7 linked regions of the Homo sapiens genome follow. The protein of the gene in region 1 interacts with the protein of each later gene in a pairwise test. Each region holds a gene or a part of one and is shown in the gene's direction. Other genes may lie near its edges. The genes, in order: RHOXF2, CRYBA1, MSX2, KRTAP15-1, SUMO1, CRX and CAMK2A.

Region 1 (2,259 bases):
ATCGGGATGACCTTAATAGCTTTTCTGCAGAGCTCATGTGTGTGAGTGCAGTGAGGGAACTATGCTGCGGTTCTGTCAATGGTGGCATGCAGAAAAGCTGCCTGACAAAACGGGGCACTGAGTGTTGGCATCCTGTTGCCCTCCATTTTCTCAGGCAGGCAATGCCAATTTGGGGGAGATGAAATATTGACGTTTTGGTGAATTGCCTTTCCCCTCCCTGGGTTTACATAGCATTCACTCAATGCAGTTCTGAAGGCAAAAGGACCACTCTCACTCAGCAAATAAGGAAAAAGGCATGATGTTCTCATCTATTGCCAAACATTTCAGCATGAATATCTCCAAAAATTTTTAATAGATGTTTCCCCCCTCTGTTTTGTAAAGATAGTAAGGGCTGGTTTATGAAACCGATACGGAGACTAGGGACCTAATGTTGTCCCATAGCACATTTGGCCCACTTTTGGCATTGCTTATGTTTATGAACCTTTGACCACAGGTACATTGGAATTGTCTCTAAACAAGCACTATTACGGTAGGCTTAAAATTTAGACTATGTATTCATGAGGGAGAAGGACTCCAAATAGTAAGATGGGAGAAGGAAATGGGGCATCAAACAGGGAGAAGAGTCCCTTTGTCCCATAAAATTTGCAGTTTGGGAACTTCCAGAAGGATCAAAATACAATGGAAATGTCATTAACTAGAAGCTTGGGGGATAGTGTTGTTTAATTGACAGGTTTTATTTTTTGGTCTTTTAACAATTGGCAGGTGTTTGGGGAGTAGTGTTTTTTGATACCTCCTCCACATTACTACTGAACGTGTTCAGAGTTGCCTATTTGGACACTCCCGCTTTGGGAATGCTGATGAGATTGGGATCTTCTGCTCGAGTAGTGAGGCTAGATGGCTGAAGGCGTCCCATGGAACTGGGCAACCAAGTCTCTGTCCCATATCCCAGGACTATAGGGAGAACAAAGTGAGCTGACCTTGTCCTTAGCCCAGGAAGATTTGGAGGGAGGGATGAGTTGGAGCGTGCAGAATTAGCAATGCTTCCTTTCTCTCAAACTCTCAACTGGGCAAAGCTTTTTGAGAATTTTTGTGAATTTGGACAACATTTGTGTCCTCCTTCCACAAAGCTTCAAGCTGAAGTGTGAAGAGTGTCCAGGGCTTCAGATACCCTCATTTCCCAGCAAGACAATCCACAAACTCCCTGGGCCCCCTATAACGAGACTTGCCTTGCAATATACCATCTTTTTAATTCTCAAGGAGTTTCAGAAGATGAATGACCCCTTAGAATTTCTTGAAGGAAAGAAAACTTGTTTTAAAATACAATGTACTCTTACCGATTTTTTACTTTACACTGAAGATGGGCTTTTCAAAACGGGGGCCTCATCTTCTTGGTATGACTTTAAAAGGCACCCCCGCCTTTTTTTCCAAGCTCAGCTTCCCCCACGACCAGGGTGACAGTGGCCTAGTAAGTAGGAGTTGGTGGGCAGCTGGGTAGCTGATGGTCAAGTATCTGCAAGCAGACATGCCACACATAGCAATACCAGCAGGGATCGAGTCCCACTCATCAGCTACACCTGCACCCAAGAGTGGAAAAAGTAATATTACAGATAAAAGGAGAGAGACAAAGAAATAAGCCAAGCCAGAGCGTACGTAGCACATACTTGGAGCTCACTAGGGGAAAGGTGTGGTGGTCACCTTTCTAAGATATTTTAGTAGTAAGGAAGTAGCTTGTCTTGATACACCCGAAAAGGTTAAGGACATAGAGAGTTGCTTGTTGTGTTTTTTTCCATGATGAAATTAAATGCTCAGTATACTAAACCTGTTTCTTTTTTCCTCTGATTGAAGATTTGGTTTGAGAATAGAAGAGCCAAATGGAGGAGACATCAGAGGGCATTAATGGCAAGAAACATGCTGCCCTTCATGGCAGTGGGCCAGCCTGTCATGGTAACCGCAGCTGAGGCCATAACGGCACCCTTGTTCATCAGCGGGATGAGAGATGATTACTTCTGGGACCACAGCCATTCCAGCAGCCTGTGTTTCCCCATGCCACCCTTTCCTCCTCCGTCCTTGCCCCTTCCACTCATGCTTCTTCCACCTATGCCACCCGCTGGCCAGGCTGAATTTGGCCCATTCCCTTTTGTTATCGTGCCTTCTTTCACATTCCCCAATGTCTAAGGGATAGCCTCTGTGCCACTTTTTGCCAGAGTGTCTTTGAGCCAGATTCATATTTTGCATAGCACCCCATCAAAAGTAGTTCAT
Region 2 (4,291 bases), on another chromosome or scaffold:
CAGTGAGGCAAGATCGCACCACTGCACTCCAGCCTAAGCAACAGAGCGACACTCTGTCTCAAAAAGAAAAAAAAAATTGGTTTTGAAGGTGTGGGTGGCAGGAATTCTCGCCCCTGGCCTGGGTGAGCTAGAGGGGAGAAGCAAGGACATCTAGGTCCCTATCACCGCTTGCCTAGACAACTTCACAGGAAGGCCCCCGGGAATCTGAGATGGAGCAGGTGAACCCTTTACATCTAGATGGTGAGTCCAAAGGAGGTATTCAGAAGGTTGCCTTCTTCCCCTTCCTACTGCTGCCCAACGATGACCCGCAGGCTGAAAGAGCCCTTTCCTCCTGGAACTGATGTGGGACCTGGCCTGTTTGGGAGCAGAATGGTGAAAGGAATTAACATGGAAGACAAAGGGACAGGCAGCCAAGATCATTTGAGGAGGAAAAATTGCTTCATTTCTAGGCTCCTTCCCCTTTTGAAACAGATAAGTTACATCCATTATATGCTCAGTGTTTATATTCAGAACTGCAGTTCTAGCCAGGGGGGTCTCTTTCCTCTCCTGGAATTTTTTGGGCCATTTATGCATTACTCCTGAGGGAGGGCCAGTGCAGGGCAGTGACTTTGGTGTTGGTTAGAACTGGATTCGAGTCTTGGCTCTGCCATTATAAATACTGTGACCTTAGGCAAGTCACCTGATTGTTCTCTTAGTTTCTTAATCTGGAAAATGGAGGTGAAAATAGCACTGTTGTGGTGGCTGTGAAAAAGTATTTCTTTCTTTTGTTGTGGAAAAGTATTTAATTCAAACTTTTTAAGTAAAGCATTTAGCACATGTCTAATATATAGGAATTATTCAATAAATGGTTTAATTCTTTTTTAAAAAACCCAAAAGTTATAGCTCCAAAATTTTTAAAGAAAATTGCAAAATTAAAAGGAATATTTAATAAAATAGCTACAGAGAGACACATGTCTGCTAGTCAACTATAATTGAAGTCAACCCTTACATAGTTATATATAAATACAGCATAATAAAGATTCCCAAGAATACAATGAACCATTTTTTCTCATATTGAGTTCAGAATTACAATAATTCTTTCACATTTTTAAACAACAAGAAATGCACATCTGTATGGAAGTGAGGTGCATTTTGATGTGTTTGATATGACATGGGGTCTCCCAGGGTCTTAAGGTCTTAGGAAGATCCCAAGGTGGTGTGAGGAACCTGGAGAAGGACAAGAGACAAGTACTCATGGCAGAGACTTCTGTCCTCACCCCCTAGCTGCTCTGAGAGATTAAGAAAGCCAAGGCCTGCAGCAGCCAGCCATGCCCACAACAGAGGGGCCTCTCTGGATTTCTGTATCCCTGGTTTAAACAAAGGCCCCAGCAAGCTGAGCCACCAAAGCTCTGGGGATCATGAGGAACAAAGGCAGAGGGAGAGCAGAGTGCTGACAGGGCCAGAGGCCAGAGGCCGCAGGGCTATAAAGAGGAGGGCCACAGAGCAAGTGGTACCAGATGGAGACCCAGGCTGAGCAGCAGGAGCTGGGTGAGTAAGGCCCTCAGGGTGCCCTTGCCCTTCCTCTCCTTGCCCTGCAGAGACATGCCCAGGAGAGGGCCCAGTTCTCCTGCCTAGTGTGTAGAGCCTTCTAGGGTGGCTGGAGAAGAGTGGGGAACTCTGGCGGAAGACAGCCTTCTCTTGTCACCCCAAGAGGAGTCACTTATATAGCAATAACCACTGCCCTAGCAACTAAGGCTGGGGGATGGGCATGGGCCCCCAAGAAACGAGCAGGGAGAAGGTATGGGAGCAGGACCTGGGAAATGTTGCTTATTCAGAGATTCAGAATGGAAAAATATATTACAGAGTTGACATGCATCATTCCTGGGCCCAATACCAGCCAGGAGGAGGGCCATGAATATCTGTCCTAAGAAACCTAATACACACCTGCCTGTCTTCCTTCTTCCCTTCCTCCCCCACTTTTCCTTCCTCTTTCTTGCTCTGTCCTTCCTTTTTTAAAACTCGTCCTACCATCTTCACTGTCTACCTAACCTCTTTGAGCCTCAGTATCCTCATCTGTAAAATGGGGATAATGATAATTCTTAATTCATAGTCTGTATGTGAAGATTAAATGCATGAATGCATGTAAAGCATTTAAAACAGGGCCGGACATGTAGATAGCCATTTTTGAGTGTAAGTATTATAACTCTTTTCTTCTTCACTTTCCTTCAATAAGTCTTTTTCAATGTCCCCCTGATCCCTCATCTCCACATGTGCTCAGCACGATGCTATACCAATCCCCTAGAAGACCGAGGCCTTGCCATTGAGGTGCTCACCAGGACATCCAACCAGAACACAGATTGGTACTGTGATGAGTGCTATAAATCAAGAAAGCAAGCAAGTGGCTGTGGGCTGGAGAAGGCAGGAAAGCCTCTGAGAAGGCAAGGTCAAGGCTGGGTAGGATCTAGGAGATAGAAAAGCAGAAAGGAATGGCCAGGCGCCGTGGCTCATGCCTGTAATCGCAGCACTTTGGGAGGCCAAGGCGGGCAGATCACCTGAGGTCGGGAGTTCAAGACCAGCCTGACCAACAGGGAGAAACCCCGTCTCTACTAAAAATACAAAATTAGCCGGGCGTGGTGGCACATGCCTGTAATCCCAGCTACTAGGGAGGCTGAGACAGGAGAATCGCTTGAACCTGGGAGGCGGAGGTTGCGGTGAGCCGAGATTGCGCCATTGCACTCCAGCCTGGGCAACAAGAGTGAAACTCTATCTCAAAAAAAAAAAAAGAAAAAGAAAAGCAGAAAGAGGCCAGATAAGGATGAGACCGTGAAGGGTTACGAGGGAGTCTGGGGCTTGGGATCCTGGCATGGCTGGCTGTTTGGCCAGTCACATGAGGGGTCTGGCCTAGGTGGTTGCCAAAGAGTTTATATTGCAGACAGAGGTAATGCTGTCACCTGAAAGCAAGTGAGAGGACAGGGTCTCAGTGCTTTACCTGCATTATTGTTTCTGATCCTTGTTTTTTTTCTTTTTTTTTTTTTTGAGATGGAGTCTCACTCTGTTGCCCAAGCTGGAGTGCAGTGGCACGATCTCAGCTCACTGCAACCTCTGCCTCCCGGGTTCAAGCGATTCTCCTGCCTCAGCCTCCCGAGTAGCTGGGACTACAGGCGTGTGCCATCATACCCGGCTAATTTTTGTATTTTTAGTAGAGACGGGGTTTCACCACGTTGGCCAGGCTGGTCTCAAACTCCCGACCTCAGGTGATCCGCCCGCTTTGGCCTCCCAAAGTGCTGGGATTACAGGCGTGAACCACCGTGCCCGGCCTATTATTTCTGATCCTTACAATAACTGCATGTCGAAGCTTTACCAATGGAAAAACTGAGGCTCAGGCTGGGCGCGGTGGATCACTTGAGGTCAGGAGTTTGGGACCAGCCTGGCCAACATGGTGAAACCCCCATCTCTACTAAAAATACAAAAACTAGCTGGACATAGTGGTGCATGCCTGTAGTCCCAGCTACATGGGAGGCTGAGGCGGAAGGATCACTTGAGCCCAGGAGGCAGAGGTTGCAGTGAAGTGAGATTGTGCCACTGCACTCCAGCCTGGATGACAGAGAAAGACCCTGTCTCAAAATAGCAACAACAACAACAACAAACCCCGAGGCACAGCTAGTGAGCAGCAGAGCCAGAATTTCAACCAAAGTCTGTCTTGCAGACTTCAAGTCTCCTTTACCTTTCAAGGCATTCCCTCACCTCCCCCTCCTCCCAAGAGGCCACATCATTCGTGTGTGCTCTGTCTTCCAGAAACCCTTCCAACCACCAAGATGGCTCAGACCAACCCTACGCCGGGGTCCCTGGGGCCATGGAAGGTAAGCCCACCCCCATCACATCCAACAGGGCAGGGGTGACATGCTGCACAGAGCAGGCCCCAGGCCTGTGCTCGTCCATAAGGCAGTGACTGACCAGAAAAACCCCAGTTTGTAGGGGAAAGGTCCACACAAGCTCCAGTGCTGTCGAAGGAAGGATCTCTCAGGATGTCCCACTGGACAAAGGAAGGATGACTGTGGATGCCATTGATGGGTGGGAGATGATACCTAGTTTCCTAACTCCTCTCTCCTCCCCACTAAAGTCATCTTAAAATACAGCAGCCCAGCAACAGTTATGTCCATGGAGAAAATGAGGGCCCATAAAGATATTTACTACTAGATCCCAAATAAATTACAGGACTCAGCCTCCCATCCTGAGGTTGGCTTTAACCATTGGCCGAAGTGGCTGATCCTCAGGCCTCTCACTGGCCTCTCTCCAACACTCCCCACTCTCC
Region 3 (3,966 bases), on another chromosome or scaffold:
AGCGGAGAGATCCGAGGCCTCTAATCCTCGAAGCTCGCTCTCCCCTTCCCCAGGCTGAGACAGTCATCACTGAGGCTTTGGAAAGGAATTACCGAGGGTATAATTTGGGGTGGGGTGGAGACATCTATGTTTTTATAAAAAACCAGGTGCCATGAATAAAAATGTGCTTCCCAAAATGATATGTAGGCCTGGGGTGTGCAAACTTGGAAGCCGGTATTTCTGAGACTTGCAAACGAGAGGGAGGCACTAGATATTGGCGACTTTTCCTCCTCCCCCCCACCCCCATTACCCTCCGAGGCAAACACTGGCATTCAAACACGCACGACAAACACAGGCTCAAACAAACTCATGAATGCACACTTGCACTGTCTTGAGAAAAAGGTCGGATCCGGATCGCGCTCAGAAAGGAGGTTCAGGAGACAAGTACAGAGATTTCAACTTTCTAAAAGTGCGCTGGATTTGCTTTCTAGTGAGAGAGATGGGGACAACTGATTTAAATTCTTCACTCCGAACCATTTGGGAGAGAGGCACTCCTGACCACTTCTCGGGCTCCTTCCGGCCCCTCTTTTCCAGGGGAAAGAGTTGTAATAATAACAGTGGGCGCTTTTGAGCGCTGGCTAGTGGCGAGTTACTCTTCTAAGTGCATACATTTCTTTCACAGGGATACTGGCCTGTGAGTTTCAGCACCGACTTTCTGGAACTGTAAAGTAAGCCAATTTTGACGCATAGTAGGGGCTTCGTAAATGTTTCTGCAATGCTGTTTGCGAATCTTGAACTTATTCTGGCGGTAGAGGGAGAGTGGGATGGGCGCAGGGTCCCTTTTAAAGAAGGGTCAAAAGAGAGAAGAAATGGGACTCGGCGAACTTCCGCTTTAAATAATCGCTCTTAATTAGGTCTCGGGCTTTTCAGTTTCGGCGTGATTATAACCCTTCAGGGATCGCCTAATAACAACTCTGCTGACTGCTCCTGTAATTAACTCCTAATTTATTTCAAACAGGAAAAAAAAAAAAAAAAAAAAAAAGGAGGGGGGGCAGCCCCTTCGGGAAGAGCCAATCAGGGGCGAGCGTCTCTGGCGTCAGCGCCAGGCCCGGCGCGGATTGGCGGCGCGCGTCTCCCACTTCCCCTCGGAGGAAAGGCTCAGCTCCCAGCGCGCCCCTCCCGTCTCCGCAGCAAAAAAGTTTGAGTCGCCGCTGCCGGGTTGCCAGCGGAGTCGCGCGTCGGGAGCTACGTAGGGCAGAGAAGTCATGGCTTCTCCGTCCAAAGGCAATGACTTGTTTTCGCCCGACGAGGAGGGCCCAGCAGTGGTGGCCGGACCAGGCCCGGGGCCTGGGGGCGCCGAGGGGGCCGCGGAGGAGCGCCGCGTCAAGGTCTCCAGCCTGCCCTTCAGCGTGGAGGCGCTCATGTCCGACAAGAAGCCGCCCAAGGAGGCGTCCCCGCTGCCGGCCGAAAGCGCCTCGGCCGGGGCCACCCTGCGGCCACTGCTGCTGTCGGGGCACGGCGCTCGGGAAGCGCACAGCCCCGGGCCGCTGGTGAAGCCCTTCGAGACCGCCTCGGTCAAGTCGGAAAATTCAGAAGATGGAGCGGCGTGGATGCAGGAACCCGGCCGATATTCGCCGCCGCCAAGTGAGTGCGCGCCGGGGCAGGAGTAGGAGGTAGCGCGGGGTACTGGAGGGAGCGGGGGGCGGGTGTTCCAGGGCTGAGGGTACCGAGACCCTTCTGCGTGCGCTACACTCCCGGGAAAGCAAGCCCAGGGCCTCTGGACTCCTGGGTGCCCGGGGCGTTCGGCGCGCCCAGTGCGCCGTCCGCATCCAAGACACCCTCTGGGTAATAACCGCGCTGTGTGTGTCTGAGACTCCCTCGACATACAGATTGTTTTTTCAAGAGCGAACCCCAGCTGGGTTTACGGGGTCGCTCGGTGGTCCGTTTCTACAGCCCTCGGCCCTGCGCTCTGGCCACTTGGCTTGTTTTTGTTTCACTGTTCCCCGGAGTCTCTGCCTGGGGAGTGAAGGAGTTGGATCCATGTTCAGTGAGCACTTGGATGTACCAGGAACGAGACAGGTTCAAAACTCAACCCTGAGAGTTGTGCCCCCATTTTAAAGATGAGCTAACTGGGCTTAGCCAGACATTGAGGAGAAACCATTTTCTTTCGTGAGTCCCGCGGGTGTCGAAGCCGGATCCCACGAAGGGATGGTGGCACCAGGGATGGTGGCATCAGAGTCTGGTGCGGGGAGGAAATGTCTCTCTGTGGTCTCCGCAGCCAGCACCTCCCCGGCAAGGTTCTGAGCTTCGCCGGGAGCGGGCTGGGGCCAGAAGCGCACGGGCTCTTCTTGGCTCACAGTAATAATTAACCGCATTCCAGCAGGGCTTGAGAGTTTGCAGAGTGATGTTCACTAGCTCACCAGATCGAGATCCTCACTAGAACCCCCAAGTGTAGACACTGGACTTGTGACTACCCTATTTTTCAGACGTGGACGCTGAGGCTTTTAAAGAAGACGGCCTTTGCTTGTCCCAGGTTACCAACAACCACTGATTGGCCAGGGGCACCTGTTGCCCACGCCCTGCTCCTCTGTTTGATATGCCCTGACCACTTTTGCGTCCTCTCCCCAGAGAGACTAGGTAGAGATCCGCACCTGCACCCCACTTGAGAATTGAGGCTGCAGAGAATTCTCCGCTTCAGCATCCATTTTTGGTCCCTGAGTCCTTTTACAATTTGGAGACGTCATCCTTTACAGCCTCTTTTACTTTTATCTCTTGGCTTTTATGGTTTCTCTACCCCCTAATTTCCCACCACGCCATCCCCTACCTGTAGGAAAGGTGAGGGTGGGGGCTGTGGAGGGACTTTCTCCAAAGCTGAGAGAGATCCTTTCACTATTTACATCATTCAGCCCTCAAGACTAGACGCACTGTATTTTGTTAACAAAACAAGGCCATATACCCAGGCGTCAGTGGCTGTCCCCTCTGGCAGTCTCTCTCCACCCTGTTAGAAACTCTGAAAGATTCAAAGGGCGAGGAGATTAAGGGACTCAAAGAATTTAAACTCAAGTTTGGATAGTGCTTTATAGCACTTTTCACCGTATTATCTTATCTCCTCTGTAGGGCAGCAGCCGGCCTCTTAACAGATGAGGACATTTCAGCAAAGTTCAGAGAGGAATCGGCAGTTTGGGCCTGACCAAAAAAAAAAAAAAAAAAAAGCTGGGGACCATTTAATGATCACCTACCAGGTGGCAGACAGACAGGGCTCTGGGTACTCTTAAAATTTTAGTACTGTGGACCACATTGAGGGATTAGTGTTACTTACCCACTTTATCGACAGTGAGGTAGAGGCTCAGAAAATTAAAAGACTTAATTTGTTTAACAAATATTGAGTACATAGCCTACGCCTATGCCCAGCCAATGATACAGGCCTTAAATGGAGTAGTGTCCAGAGGTTAGGAATCCTGCCATCCTTTAGGCCTGTGGGTCTGGAAAGGCAATGACTACTACCCCTCTAAACATCTCTGCCCTGTGCTCAAGCTTCCCTGCTCTGGGTAAGGCAACCTCGGGCCCAGGCTGTGACCTTCCCATGAAAAGAACCAGAAATTCTGAGAACCGAGTTTATAACCTGCACATTCTGCACATGTATCCCGGAACTTAAAGTAAAAAAAAACAAAAAAACAAAAAAAAAACACCATGAAGAATTGTTGGTGCTTTGGGCCTGGAGGTGGCAGCGGGAACCCTGTGGTCAGAGTAGTGGGTCCTGAGAATGCCAGGCGACGGAGCCTGGGGCGAGAGGGAGCTACCCGCCCGGGCCTGATTTTGTTATTTGGAGGAAGTAGGATAAACGCTGTTTTGCCTTATATAATCGCATCCTTCCTCTGGCTGGTTTAAAATTAGGTGGGGGTGGAGGGATGGGGAGTGTTGCATTGGGAGGAAGCCTCATAGCTTCATGGTTTTGATACACATGTGCGATCCCGGTCACCTGGATTT
Region 4 (2,379 bases), on another chromosome or scaffold:
ATTTATAAAGTCATTTGTTACTATGAATTCTTTACATATTTTATCTTTCTGTGAATACTACATGGGATAGACATTTCCCTCATTTCTTGCTTTTCTTTTCCCTCTCTGGTAAAAATGTCACCCTCTGAGAGAAAAGAAAGGAAAAGATTAACGATTTACATTTTACTTATAGTGCTTATTATTTTCCTCTCAGTAACATCAACATGACCAAAAATTACTTATACCTTATGGGGATAAACGGTTTTTTATAATCAAACTTATTGATGACTTCTATGAAGAAGCAAATCAACCTTTGAGTAAGGGATTTCTTTAGTAGTTTTACAATGTAAACTTCAAAGCACTTGTTCAAAAATTTCACCCTTCATTCTTAACTCTTCATGTGCACAAGAGTGACTTAGCTACTTGTGTTATAAGAAATCTAAACTTAAATATGTTAGGCACTCATTTAGCATGTCTACCAAATAAGGATTGTTATTGGGTTATTTCTTCTAATGGTTCAAAGAATTGAAAGAAGGAATAGATATTGAAATTTTTTTTCTGTTCTCAATTGAATTTATAAAATTGGAGCAAGATCAAAGTCCCTTCCAGATTACAAGGTATTTTTCAGATCTTTACAAATACCAGAACTCTCAGTGTCTTAGCCGTTTGATCCAATTTCTAGAAGGACAGGATGAATGAAGCATCAAGTTTTTTTCTTTGTTTTTTTGTTTCTTTGTTTGTTTGTTTGTTTTGGAGATGGAATCTTGCTCTGTCTCCCAGGCTGGAGTGCAGTGGTACGATCTCGGCTCACTGCAAACTCCGCCTCCCGGGTTCAAGCAATTCTCCTGCCTCAGCCTCCTGAGTAGCTGGGATTACAGCCGCCCACCACCATGCCCGGCTAATTTTTGTATTTTTAGTAGAGACGGAGTTTCACCATGTTGGTCAGGCTGGTCTGGAACTCCTGACCTCGTGATATGCCTGCCTCAGCCTCCCAAAGTGCTGGAATTACAAGTGTGAGCCTCCGCGCCCGACCCTTTGAAGCATCAGTCTTATAGGTACAATTATGGTGGTTTTCATTCTACCTAAGCAAGATGAATGAGAAATGGCATTTTTGTTTCATGAACAATTGCTTTGAAAAACTAATGAAATTCTTTCATGTAGAAGTCTACGTTCATAAATAAAATTCTTTGAGTGTTAATATATTTCATTTTGACTGCAGCCTAATTAAGTGTTCTCATTAGAATGGGCACTTGTGACTACACCTATTGCTAGAGTATGTCAGTGTCCAGTATAGAAGGTAACATTCACACACACACGCTCCTCACTGCAAATCACCTGAGCTCAGAACTCCTGTTAACATGTCTTACAACTGCAGCTCTGGAAACTTCTCCTCCTGCTGTTTTGGAAGTTACCTGAGGTATCCAGTTTCCACTTATAATTTGTTCTACCCCAGCAATGCCATCTATTCTCCAAATACCTGCCAACTGGGCTCCTCTCTCTACAATGGCTGTCAGGAGACCTACTGTGAGCCCACCAGCTGCCAGACATCCTGCACTTTGGCCAGATCCTATCAGACATCCTGTTACTGCCCAAAGAATTCCATCTTCTGCAGTCCCCGCCAGACTAACTACATAAGATCCCTTGGATGTGGAAACACTGGCCTTGGATCTCTTGGTTGTGGAAGCACTGGCTTCCAATCTCTGGACTGTGGGTCCAGCTTCTACCACCCAACTACCTTTTCATCCAGGAATTTCCAGGCAACTTGTTACTAACCAGCCTTTGGGTCTCGCCTTTTTGGATCATCTTACTGAATATTCTCCATTCTCTCATGATTATTTCTGTACTCTATGGAACTGCAACACTCAGCCTGTCCAATATCTGTGATTGTTGACCATCTACATCAGTAGGACTCAGCATCCTAGCCCTCTTGGAAGTATATGATTGAACACGGACAAATTAATCTTGACCTAGGACCCTTCCTAAATCTGACAGGAGATATATCTTGAATTTCAATTTTTGTGCCAATGCTCAGGATCATTTCTGTTATCATCTTTCTAAAATCCTTCTCTCATTATTTTCCCAGAACTCTTCCACTCAAATATATTTCAAATAGTTACAATATTTTAAATAAGCTTATTTCTTTGGCATGAATTCTGGCATTCCATTTTATTTTGTTAATACAATACACTTAGGCTGGGCATGATGGCTCACACCTGTAATCCCAGCACTTTGGGAGACTGAGGCTGGCGGATCACTTTAGGTCAAGAGTTTGAGGCCATCCTGGCCAACACAGTGAAAACCCATTTCTACTAAAAATACAAAAATTAGCAAGGCCTGGTGTGCACCTATAATCCCAGCTACTCAGGAGGCTGAGGCAGGCGAATCACTTGAATCTGAGAG
Region 5 (3,500 bases), on another chromosome or scaffold:
TTGAATCATTTACTTCTTCCAGGACACTGGGATTGTTAAGGATGATTTTTTTTTTAAAAAATGAAAGGTCTCACATATTTATTACTGAACCTAGCCAACCAACACGTTCATAACAGATTCAGAGAAAAAAATATATTCCCAATAAAACATGTCCAACTCTCTAGATAGTGGTGACATTTTCAGCTCGATATGGTAACATGATTGTGACCTTCAGACAGCATAAGTATGTTGTATCATGCAATGCCTTATAGACCCAGCTTGGTTCTTCTCCAATGGCTCCTTTTGGAGTTTTACCTGATTTTATTACCAGTTTTCATCCGAATCCACTGGGGAATGGGTCAATTTTGCTTTTGTTTCTTGGCCAGGAATCACTTAACCCTGAAAGTCTTGTGAGAAGACATGGCGAGAAGTGGAGTCAAGCACACACCATGATGGCAGATAAAGGAAGAGAGGCCGATAATCTTTTTTTTTTGAGACGGAGTCTCGCTCTGTCACCCAGTCTGGAGTGCAGTGGTGCCATCTCGACTCGCTGCAACCTCCGCCTCCCAGGTTCAAGTGAGTCTCCCTCCTCAGCCTCCCAAGTAGCTGGGATTACAGGCACCTGCAATCATGCTCAACTAATTTTTGATCTTTGTAGAGATGGGATTTCACCATGTTGGCTAGGCTGGTCCTGAACTCTTGACCTCAGGTGATCCGCCTGCCTTGGCCTTGCAAAATGCAGGGATTACAGGCATGAGCCACGGTGCCTGGCCCAGTTAATTTTTTATTAAGACATCTTTAGCATTCCATTTTGGAATTCCCTGAAGTTGTGATTTAAAAAAGTATATATATATAATGCTGATATTCTACTTAATTAATTTAATTAATTAATTTTTTTTGAGACAGTTTCGCTCTTGTTGCCTAGGTTGGAATGCGATGGCGCCATCTTGGCTCACCACAACCTCTGCCGCCTGGGTTCAAGCGATTCTCCTGCCACAGCCTCCCGAGTAGCTGGGATTACAGGCATGTGCCACCATGCCCAGCTAATTTTTTTTTTTTTTTTGAGACAGAGTCCTAGCTGGAGCGCAATGGCGTGATCTCTGCTCACTGCAACCTCTGCCTCCTGGGTTCAAGCATTTCTCCTGCCTCAGCCTCCTGAGTAGCTGGGATTACAGGCACGCACCACCACGCCTGGCTAAGTTTTTTTATTTTTAGTAGAGACGGGGTTTCACTGCGTTAGCCAGGATGGTCTTGATCTCCTGACTTAGTGATCCGCCTGCCTCGGCCTCCCAAAGTGCTGGGATTACAGGCGTGAGCCACTGCGCCCGGCTAATTTCATTTTTTTTTTTTTTTTTTTTTTTAAGTAAAGATGGGGCTTCTCCATGTTGGTCAGGCCGGTCTCGAACTCCCGACCTCAGGTGATCTGACTGCCTTGGCCTCCCAAAGTGCTGGGATTACAGGCATGAGCCACTGCGCCATCCCGGCTGATATTCTGTTTCTTTTTAAAAGAGTCATGGGGAAAAGTTCACACAGATACTGTTATTGAGCACCTTAGTTTTACAGTTTAAAATCTGGATAATTCCTGCAACGTGACTATGTTTACTTAAAGATACGTTGTATCGGTTATATTTTTTGGCTATTTTTGCATTCAGTTGCCTTTTCTGAGCTAATGAGGATCTGAAGGAAAAGACCTGAAGGAAGGAAGGAAGGGTGGAGTTTTGTTTGCTGGGCTGGTTGTTCTCAATATCTAGGGCCAGTTATTTTTAAAGGTTTTACCAAAGAGTAATATACATACAAAAAAGTGCACAAGAGTGTTTGGTTTGCCGAACTTTCACAAACTGAACACATCCATGCAACCAGCACTCAGATGAAGAACTGCTGTATTGACTTAACAAGTAGAATAGTTTTGTCTGTTTTTATACAGCATAACATTTTATAAGTGAAATCATACAGTATGTATCTCTGTGTGTTGGTTCTTTTGCCCGGCACTGTTTAGAGGTTTGTTCATTATTATTGTATATAGTTGTATGTTATTACATCTCATTGCTGTGTGGCTTTCCATTGTGTGGAATGCAGTACACTCAATTTACTTATTCATTCTGCTTTTGATGCCCATTGAGGAATTTTCTAGCACCTGTTTTTAATATGAGCCAAACTTATACCTTTTATAGCACCTTCTATTTCAGGATTACTTTTGGGCTGAATAACAGAAAGTTTGATTTATTGTAGGTTAAACAATTTTTTTTTTCTCATAAAACAAGAAATGTAGACAAAAGTAGCTCAAGGCTGATGTGGTAGCTCCACAGTTCCTTCATATTATTTTCTTCTCCATCCTTAACAGCAGTCTTTCACTCTGGTGCTTGTCTACTTGTGGGCACAAAAAAGCTACTTTGTGTTCCAGACAGGAGAAAAGGGAAAAAGTATGTTCACTTTATATCTCTTTGGCCAAAATGGGTATAAAAGAAGCTGGGAAATACGTTTTTTATCTGGGTAAATTTAGGTTTCCCTTTGTAAGGAAGAAAGGGAAAATAGATACCAGATAGGTAATTAACAATGTCTGTCATACTTCCAAGTCTGTTTGCTAGTACTTTTGGATGCAATCAAACTGGTTTGTTCTAGGCTTAGCATAGGTCTAGACTCAAAGGGTAAGGTTTACACAACCAGTAAAATTTTTAGTTATAGTTTTGAGTTCCTGAGAAGCTATCTGTGCATGACTAGTGTTTAACTACCATTCAGGGTTGAATGTAAATATTCAGAGGCCCATTGTGTTGACAGCTTTGACCTAAACCTTGAAGTTATACAGTTAAATCTGGTCAGTTCTGTTCTAAATCTCTAGTACCGTCTTACTAAGTTTGAACATATGCATCATGAAGATGAAAATATACATATATTTTTGTGTTTTTAGAATCGTGGGCCCAGTGCAGTGGCTTACTCCTGTAATCCCAGCACTTGGGAGGCCGAGGCAGGCGGATTGCCTGAGCACCAGAGTTCGAGACCAGCCTGGGCAACATGGTGAAACCCTGTCTCTATGAAAAAATACAAAATTTAGCTGGGTGTGGTGGTGTGCGCCTGTAGTCCCAGCCACTGAGGAGGCGGAGTTTGCAGTGAGCCGAGATCGTGCCACTGCACTCCAGCCTGGGTGACACAGCGAGACTCAAAATAAATAAATAAATAAAATGGAATTGTGGTAAATTATTTAAGTATAAGGGAAGTGACTTCACTGTAATTCTCGGTTTTTCCCTTTTAATGGTGCATTAGAATTATCCTGTTTAACCCTTTTTGAGCTTTCTTCATTAGGAAATAAAATAAATTGATATATATAGAATTTGAAGCTTGGAGTGACTTTTTTTTTTTTTTTCCGAGACAGTCTTGCTCTGTTGCCCAGGCTGGAATGCATTGGCGTGATCTCGGCTCACTGCAAGCTCCACCTCCTGGGTTCACGCCATTCTCCTGCCTTAGCCTCCCAAGTAGCTGGGACTACAGGCGCCCACCACCACGCCCAGCTAATTTTTTGTATTTTT
Region 6 (2,444 bases), on another chromosome or scaffold:
ATAACTGTACGTGTGCATGTTTGTATTAGATGGGTGGATGAATATGTGTATGATGTATGTATGATCATATCGATGGGTAAATGCAGGCATGATGTATGTGCGTATGGTGTATGCATGTATAATTGTACGTGTGCATGTTTGCATTAGACGGATGGGATGAATGCACATGGGTATGATGTATGCATGTGTTCATGCACACATGCAGGTATGATTGGATGGATAGATGGATGGATGGGTGAATAGACGCCCCACAGCTGGATGCAAAGTAGACAGATGTGAACCCAGCACCTCTCACCAATAAGTGTCCTCATCCCCGGGCACCCTGCGGCTCTCCTGGGCCTCTTCCCCACTTACCCACCCCCATCTCCGCTCTTATCCCCCAGGTTTGGTTCAAGAACCGGAGGGCTAAATGCAGGCAGCAGCGACAGCAGCAGAAACAGCAGCAGCAGCCCCCAGGGGGCCAGGCCAAGGCCCGGCCTGCCAAGAGGAAGGCGGGCACGTCCCCAAGACCCTCCACAGATGTGTGTCCAGACCCTCTGGGCATCTCAGATTCCTACAGTCCCCCTCTGCCCGGCCCCTCAGGCTCCCCAACCACGGCAGTGGCCACTGTGTCCATCTGGAGCCCAGCCTCAGAGTCCCCTTTGCCTGAGGCGCAGCGGGCTGGGCTGGTGGCCTCAGGGCCGTCTCTGACCTCCGCCCCCTATGCCATGACCTACGCCCCGGCCTCCGCTTTCTGCTCTTCCCCCTCCGCCTATGGGTCTCCGAGCTCCTATTTCAGCGGCCTAGACCCCTACCTTTCTCCCATGGTGCCCCAGCTAGGGGGCCCGGCTCTTAGCCCCCTCTCTGGCCCCTCCGTGGGACCTTCCCTGGCCCAGTCCCCCACCTCCCTATCAGGCCAGAGCTATGGCGCCTACAGCCCCGTGGATAGCTTGGAATTCAAGGACCCCACGGGCACCTGGAAATTCACCTACAATCCCATGGACCCTCTGGACTACAAGGATCAGAGTGCCTGGAAGTTTCAGATCTTGTAGAGGACGCAGTCTCCATCTCTCTCCATCGGGCCTCGGGACCCTTTCTCTTCTGAATCTGCTTCCCTGCAGTTTAGATCCCGGGATGGCATTCCTGAGAAAGCAACCCGAACCAGCTGTCCTTCTGACAGCTCGGTGTTCAGCTTACAGAGACCACCCCTTTCCTCCACAGGGAGAGGCTCCTCCCTCTCCTGGGACAGCTCACAGGTCCTAGTGATTCTCTCAACCCTAACACCGTCTGGCACGATTGTGACCGCTGAAGTACACCACGAGCTCCAGGCTTCAGAAAGTGGTGCTGAGAACTTGCTCCAAGAAGAAGTCAAACCAAACTTGCAGTTGATTTGGGGTCATGTTTAGGTCAGAATCACCGTGCCCTTGAACAAGCAGGTAGGGGGGCTTGATAACTTAACTTTCCACGTGGACAGAATTTTTTTTTTTGTTTTGTTTTTGTTTTGCAGACACAGTCTAGCTCTGTCGCCCAGGCTGGAGTGCAGTGGCACGATCTCAGCTCACTGCAAGCTCTACCTCCCGGGTTCACGCCATTCTCCTGCCTCAGCCTCCCGAGTAGCTGGGACTACAGATGCCCACCACCAGGCCCGGCTAATTTTTTTTGTATTTTTAGTAGAGACGGGGTTTCACCGTGTTAGCCAGGATGGTCTCGATCTCCTGACCTCGTGATCCGCCCGCCTCGGCCTCCCAAAGTGCTAGGATTACAGGCGTGAGCCACCGCGCCCGGCCCTTTTTTTTTTTTTTTTTTTTAATTGAGACGGAGTCTCACTCTTTTGCTTAGGCTGGAGTGCAGTGGTGTGATCTCAGCTCACTGACTGCAACCTCCACCTCCCGGGTTGAAGCGTTGCTCCTGCCTCAATCTCCCAATTAGCTGGGATTACAGGTGTGCTCCATCATGCCCGGCTAATTTTTCTATTATTAGTAGAGACAGGGTTTTACCATGTTGGCCAGGCTGGTCTGGAACCCCTGACCTCAAGTGATCCGCCTGCCTCGGCCTCCCAAAGTGCTGGGATTACAGGCATGAGCCATTGTGCCTGGCCCTACACGTGGACACTTCTTTAGCATATGGTTAGGGACCTTTCTAGAAATTCCAAAGACAGACTTTAAGAAGCCCCGTCGGGAAACCTTAGGCCAATGATGTGGTTACATTAAAAATAAATTATCTGGGAATTTCACAGACTTCACAAATGTCAGGCTTACATGGTAGGTTTAGGGGACCGTTTGAGAGACAAAGATCTACATTCATATATGTAGCTATACATATATGTACTTTTTCTTCTTAGTTTCTTTTTAAAGACATTTTATCACTCATTCGCTCATTAGCACATTGGGAATGTGTGTATTTGGTAGGGAAATGAAAGGCACCTTGCCTGTTCCATCTCTACTCCTTTTTTCTTTTGTTTTAGG
Region 7 (3,500 bases), on another chromosome or scaffold:
GAGCCCAGGGGCCATGGAGGGATGAGCTAGTCCTGGAGCAAGATGCTCTCAGCACGGGGCAGAGGGCTAAGAGGTGGAGGGGTTGGGGGACACGAGGTCTGCTGTTGTTGCCCAAGCAAGAAAAGTCCATCATCTTCAGGAGCCTCTGCTGGTAGGTGTCCCTCAAGCTCTTCAGCTTGGGCGGGCCAAGGGGCCCATTAATATCTGCCCCTAGGACGGCCTTGTCCCAGGAGCTGTACTGGCTAAAGCCTAGCTCACCCCGACTTCTCCAGGGGGCGAGGGATGGGCTCTGGGCTGGGGTTGGGGTTGGGACAAATGGAGGGGCAGGGCAGAGGCTTTGGCTTCTTCTCTGAATGCAGCACCTGCCTCTCCTTCCCCGTGGCCCTCCCGTCTCTCTGTCCCTCCTGGGTCCCTTCACTCCGGCCTCCTCTCCCACTGCCCTCTTCTTATGTCTTGCAGGGAGCCATTCTCACCACGATGCTGGCCACCAGGAACTTCTCCGGTAGGTGGCAGGACCTCAGGGTCCCCAGTAAGCCCTGCACCAGTTCGTTGGGGGCACCGTCCTGTCAGATATTGGAGTGCCCCCAGGCCACTGGGCCTGGGGAGAGGGAGTTGTAGAGGACTCTGTGACTAAGGGCTTAGCTCACCTGCCACGGCCTGTACCCAGAAGTGAAGAGAGGTCAAAAGTCAGCAAGCCCAGGGCCCACCAGGACTGGTTACAGATTTAGTCTGGCTGCCCACTCCTACAGCAGTGCTGGGGTTCTCAGGCTGGGCCGCCTAGAGGGGAAGGCTTCTGATTGCAGGGGATTGAGTTCTAGATGGGGTGGAGCCAGGTCCAGGGAGTAACAATATTGCCCACCATGATTGGAGCCCTGTGCTAAGCAGTCCCGTGCTTCCACTCAGGTGGCCTACATGACAAGGCAGCAGAGGGGATGATGGGGGTGCTGCCATCCCTATTTCTGGGATGAGGAAGCAGAAGCTCAGGAAGGTGAGCTCTGACTTGTCCCAGGTCACATGGCTAGAGAGGCAGAGCCTGCATTCAGCACAGGTTTGACCAAACCCAGGGCAAGTGCCTTTAACTGGATTGGGTCACCAGTGAGTCCAGGGCAGGAGCGTCCCAGGCCCTTGGCCAAACTGGGCTGGTTAAGGCAGGGAGTGCCCAATCACCTGAGGCATGTGGCTTTGCAGAGAGAAGGGGAAGGGATTATTGTCAGGGTTTAGCAAGAAGCTCCTCTTGGCACATCAGAGAGGGCTGGGGCCAGTGCCCTCCAGAGGCTTCCTTCTGGGGAGCGCAGGCCGCTGGCAGGCAGTAGAGGAGATATAGATAGCAGATAGAGCAAAGCTCACCCGAGGGGCCCTCTGACTGGGGCTGGGGCCAGCCGAGAAAGCTGCTGCAGATTTGTGGCCAGCACCACAGCAAGAGGGCAGCTCTGAGAAGGGGGCAGCTGGCTGCATTGAGTGGGTCCACCTGCCCATGTAACCAGTTGGGAGGAGTGAGACCCAGAGGTGGGCAGATACTAGAACTTCTGACTGGGCTTTTCCTACCTCGTTAAACTGCCTTCCCACCCTCTCCCTGGACAAGGATCCTGCCATTCCGTAAACTGAAAGATGAGCTACCCAGATAGTCAGAGTCTTTTTTTAACAACTGAAGCACCCTAAAGAACTCTAGTCCTGAGCTCACAAAATGGCGGCCTGTGAGCTGGATTGAATCTCTTGATATGCTTTGTGGAGGTAGGGGTGTTTTAAAAATTTTTTTGAATGAGTTTCTAACACTTAAAAATTAGGAAATTTCATAGAAAACCCCAGATTGCTGTCGTCTCTTGAAAATTAGACGCTGTGGCCTCACTGGACCCACGATCCTGTGACAGTAGGCTGGAGCTGAGAGGGGCGTCTACCTTGAGGCTCGAGGAGAAAGCACTCCCCCTGCCCCACTGCACATCCTAGTCCAACCCTCCAAAGCCTGTGGTGAATGGACAGCCATTCCTGTCAGCTTCGGGATCCAGAGGTGGCCCCTGCCTTGGTTTGCAAGTAGGGAACTTGGAATGAGAGCCTCGAAGGGGTCATAGGTGGAAATGTGGGGGTGACTGGGAAGGTGACCTGCCATGAGCCCCATGCCTCAGAGCCCCTGGGGCATCAGTGGCTCATATGACCCTCCTCCCAACTCCCCCTCTCAAGGCCACCAGGAGAAGTCTTATCATGGCTACCATTTCCTGAGCATGTGCGGCTTATGGGTCAGGTGCTTTGCTAAGTACTTCACAGATACCTTGTTTCATTTAAGGTATTTGCTTAAGTCTGAAGCAGCCGGATGCCTGTGGGCAGGGCTGGACATTCAGGCCATTTCCTGGCTGATGCCCACTTCCAGGGCTCTGGCCAGGAGGTGAGGAGGGAGGTAAGGGGAAATGACAGCAGGGGAAGCCCCCAAAGAGCTGTTGCTCTGGTTGTCCCTGCCACCCGGGCCATAGCCAGTGCCAATATGGGGCTCTGGAGTCTGAGGTTGGGGAGGCCTATATGGCCTGAGGAGAGAGGCAGGGGATGGGTGCTCTGGCAGGGTGGGCCCCAGTGGGGGCATCTGCTTCTTGTCACTGGCAAGACGCAGCCTGCAGCTGTCCGGAGTGAGTAGGCAGGGCTGACACATGACCTCCGCAGCAGCATGGGGCTAAAATTAGAGAGGGCCAGGGTGGGGAGGGCGTGTCCAGCCTGGGGCCAGGCAGCCAGACCTCGGGTTGGCCACCGCCAGCACGGTGGTGACAGGGATTCAGAGGGAATCCCCGGGCTGAAACAGCAGCCCACAGTCCTGGGACATGTTGGACACCTCCCTCAACCCATGAAGCCAGAGGGTTACGCTTGAGATTGCTGAGAAGGCGGGGAACCCAGGCAGTCCCTGGGCCTCCAAGGAGGGAGGAGGAGGAGGAGGAGGAGGAGGAGGAGGAGGAGGCCTCCCCCAGGATCGCTGGGCCAGCTCTGCTCCCTGCAGTCTGCCCTCCGGCTGCGTGTGGATGCTGCTCGTCCTCGCCCTGTGGGCCCTGGTGCCCTGCCTGGCGTTGTTAACCCTCTACTTTTTCTCCTCCACAGGAGGGAAGAGTGGGGGAAACAAGAAGAGCGATGGTGTGAAGGTAAGCCCCTCCAGGAGCCTGGCAGGGCTTGGCTCTGGCAGCGTTTCTGCCAACAGAGACCGGCTTTCAGGCCTGGAGCAAGACCCGGGCCTTGCTGATGGTGTCCTGGGCAGACGTGGGCCACATTTGTGGCCAGGCTGTCTCCAGACCCACGACCTAGGCTTTGGTGCCCACCGTTGCGCCGTGACTGTTGGGGGGCAGATGGGAGAGGGGGGACTGGAGGAGGGTGGAAGTGACAGGTGTGCTGGGGTGGGGGCAGGCGCAAGGAAAGGGGCAGGTCAGAAGGAGATTTCTGTGGTTCTCCGAGGCTGGAGAGCTGGTGTGCAAGAGAGGGTGCAAGGAGAGGACAGAAATGGTCATGAGGGGTGACCTCCGTCCTGCCTATGT

The links.
Region 2: the proteins of RHOXF2 (region 1) and CRYBA1 interact in binary tests that used the Homo sapiens proteins (3 or more experiments, as listed by UniProt).
Region 3: the proteins of RHOXF2 (region 1) and MSX2 interact in binary tests that used the Homo sapiens proteins (3 or more experiments, as listed by UniProt).
Region 4: the proteins of RHOXF2 (region 1) and KRTAP15-1 interact in binary tests that used the Homo sapiens proteins (3 or more experiments, as listed by UniProt).
Region 5: the proteins of RHOXF2 (region 1) and SUMO1 interact in binary tests that used the Homo sapiens proteins (3 or more experiments, as listed by UniProt).
Region 6: the proteins of RHOXF2 (region 1) and CRX interact in binary tests that used the Homo sapiens proteins (3 or more experiments, as listed by UniProt).
Region 7: the proteins of RHOXF2 (region 1) and CAMK2A interact in binary tests that used the Homo sapiens proteins (3 or more experiments, as listed by UniProt).

What each region holds. Positions count from the first base shown.
Region 1 is NC_000023.11:120,161,613-120,163,871, forward strand, and holds part of RHOXF2 (rhox homeobox family member 2), read left to right. Parts: intron 1-1,845; coding exon 1,846-2,175; 3' UTR 2,176-2,259. UniProt on the Homo sapiens protein: Transcription factor maybe involved in reproductive processes. Modulates expression of target genes encoding proteins involved in processes relevant to spermatogenesis.
Region 2 is NC_000017.11:29,245,368-29,249,658, forward strand, and holds the start of CRYBA1 (beta-crystallin A3), read left to right. Parts: upstream 1-1,491; 5' UTR 1,492-1,496; coding exon 1,497-1,527; intron 1,528-3,774; coding exon 3,775-3,839; intron 3,840-4,291. UniProt on the Homo sapiens protein: Crystallins are the dominant structural components of the vertebrate eye lens.
Region 3 is NC_000005.10:174,723,416-174,727,381, forward strand, and holds the start of MSX2 (homeobox protein MSX-2), read left to right. Parts: upstream 1-1,166; 5' UTR 1,167-1,244; coding exon 1,245-1,623; coding exon of another isoform or gene 1,624-1,649; exon of another isoform or gene 1,650-1,652; intron 1,653-3,966. UniProt on the Homo sapiens protein: Acts as a transcriptional regulator in bone development. Represses the ALPL promoter activity and antagonizes the stimulatory effect of DLX5 on ALPL expression during osteoblast differentiation. Probable morphogenetic role.
Region 4 is NC_000021.9:30,438,991-30,441,369, forward strand, and holds KRTAP15-1 (keratin-associated protein 15-1), read left to right. Parts: upstream 1-1,284; 5' UTR 1,285-1,337; coding exon 1,338-1,751; 3' UTR 1,752-1,879; downstream 1,880-2,379. UniProt on the Homo sapiens protein: In the hair cortex, hair keratin intermediate filaments are embedded in an interfilamentous matrix, consisting of hair keratin-associated proteins (KRTAP), which are essential for the formation of a rigid and resistant hair shaft through their extensive disulfide bond cross-linking with abundant cysteine residues of hair keratins.
Region 5 is NC_000002.12:202,228,598-202,232,097, reverse strand, and holds part of SUMO1 (small ubiquitin-related modifier 1 isoform a precursor), read left to right. Parts: intron 1-53; exon of another isoform or gene 54-450; intron 451-3,500. UniProt on the Homo sapiens protein: Ubiquitin-like protein that can be covalently attached to proteins as a monomer or a lysine-linked polymer.
Region 6 is NC_000019.10:47,838,937-47,841,380, forward strand, and holds part of CRX (cone-rod homeobox protein), read left to right. Parts: intron 1-383; coding exon 384-1,031; 3' UTR 1,032-2,444. UniProt on the Homo sapiens protein: Transcription factor that binds and transactivates the sequence 5'-TAATC[CA]-3' which is found upstream of several photoreceptor-specific genes, including the opsin genes.
Region 7 is NC_000005.10:150,244,774-150,248,273, reverse strand, and holds part of CAMK2A (calcium/calmodulin-dependent protein kinase type II subunit alpha), read left to right. Parts: intron 1-459; coding exon 460-502; intron 503-3,072; coding exon 3,073-3,113; intron 3,114-3,500. UniProt on the Homo sapiens protein: Calcium/calmodulin-dependent protein kinase that functions autonomously after Ca(2+)/calmodulin-binding and autophosphorylation, and is involved in various processes, such as synaptic plasticity, neurotransmitter release and long-term potentiation.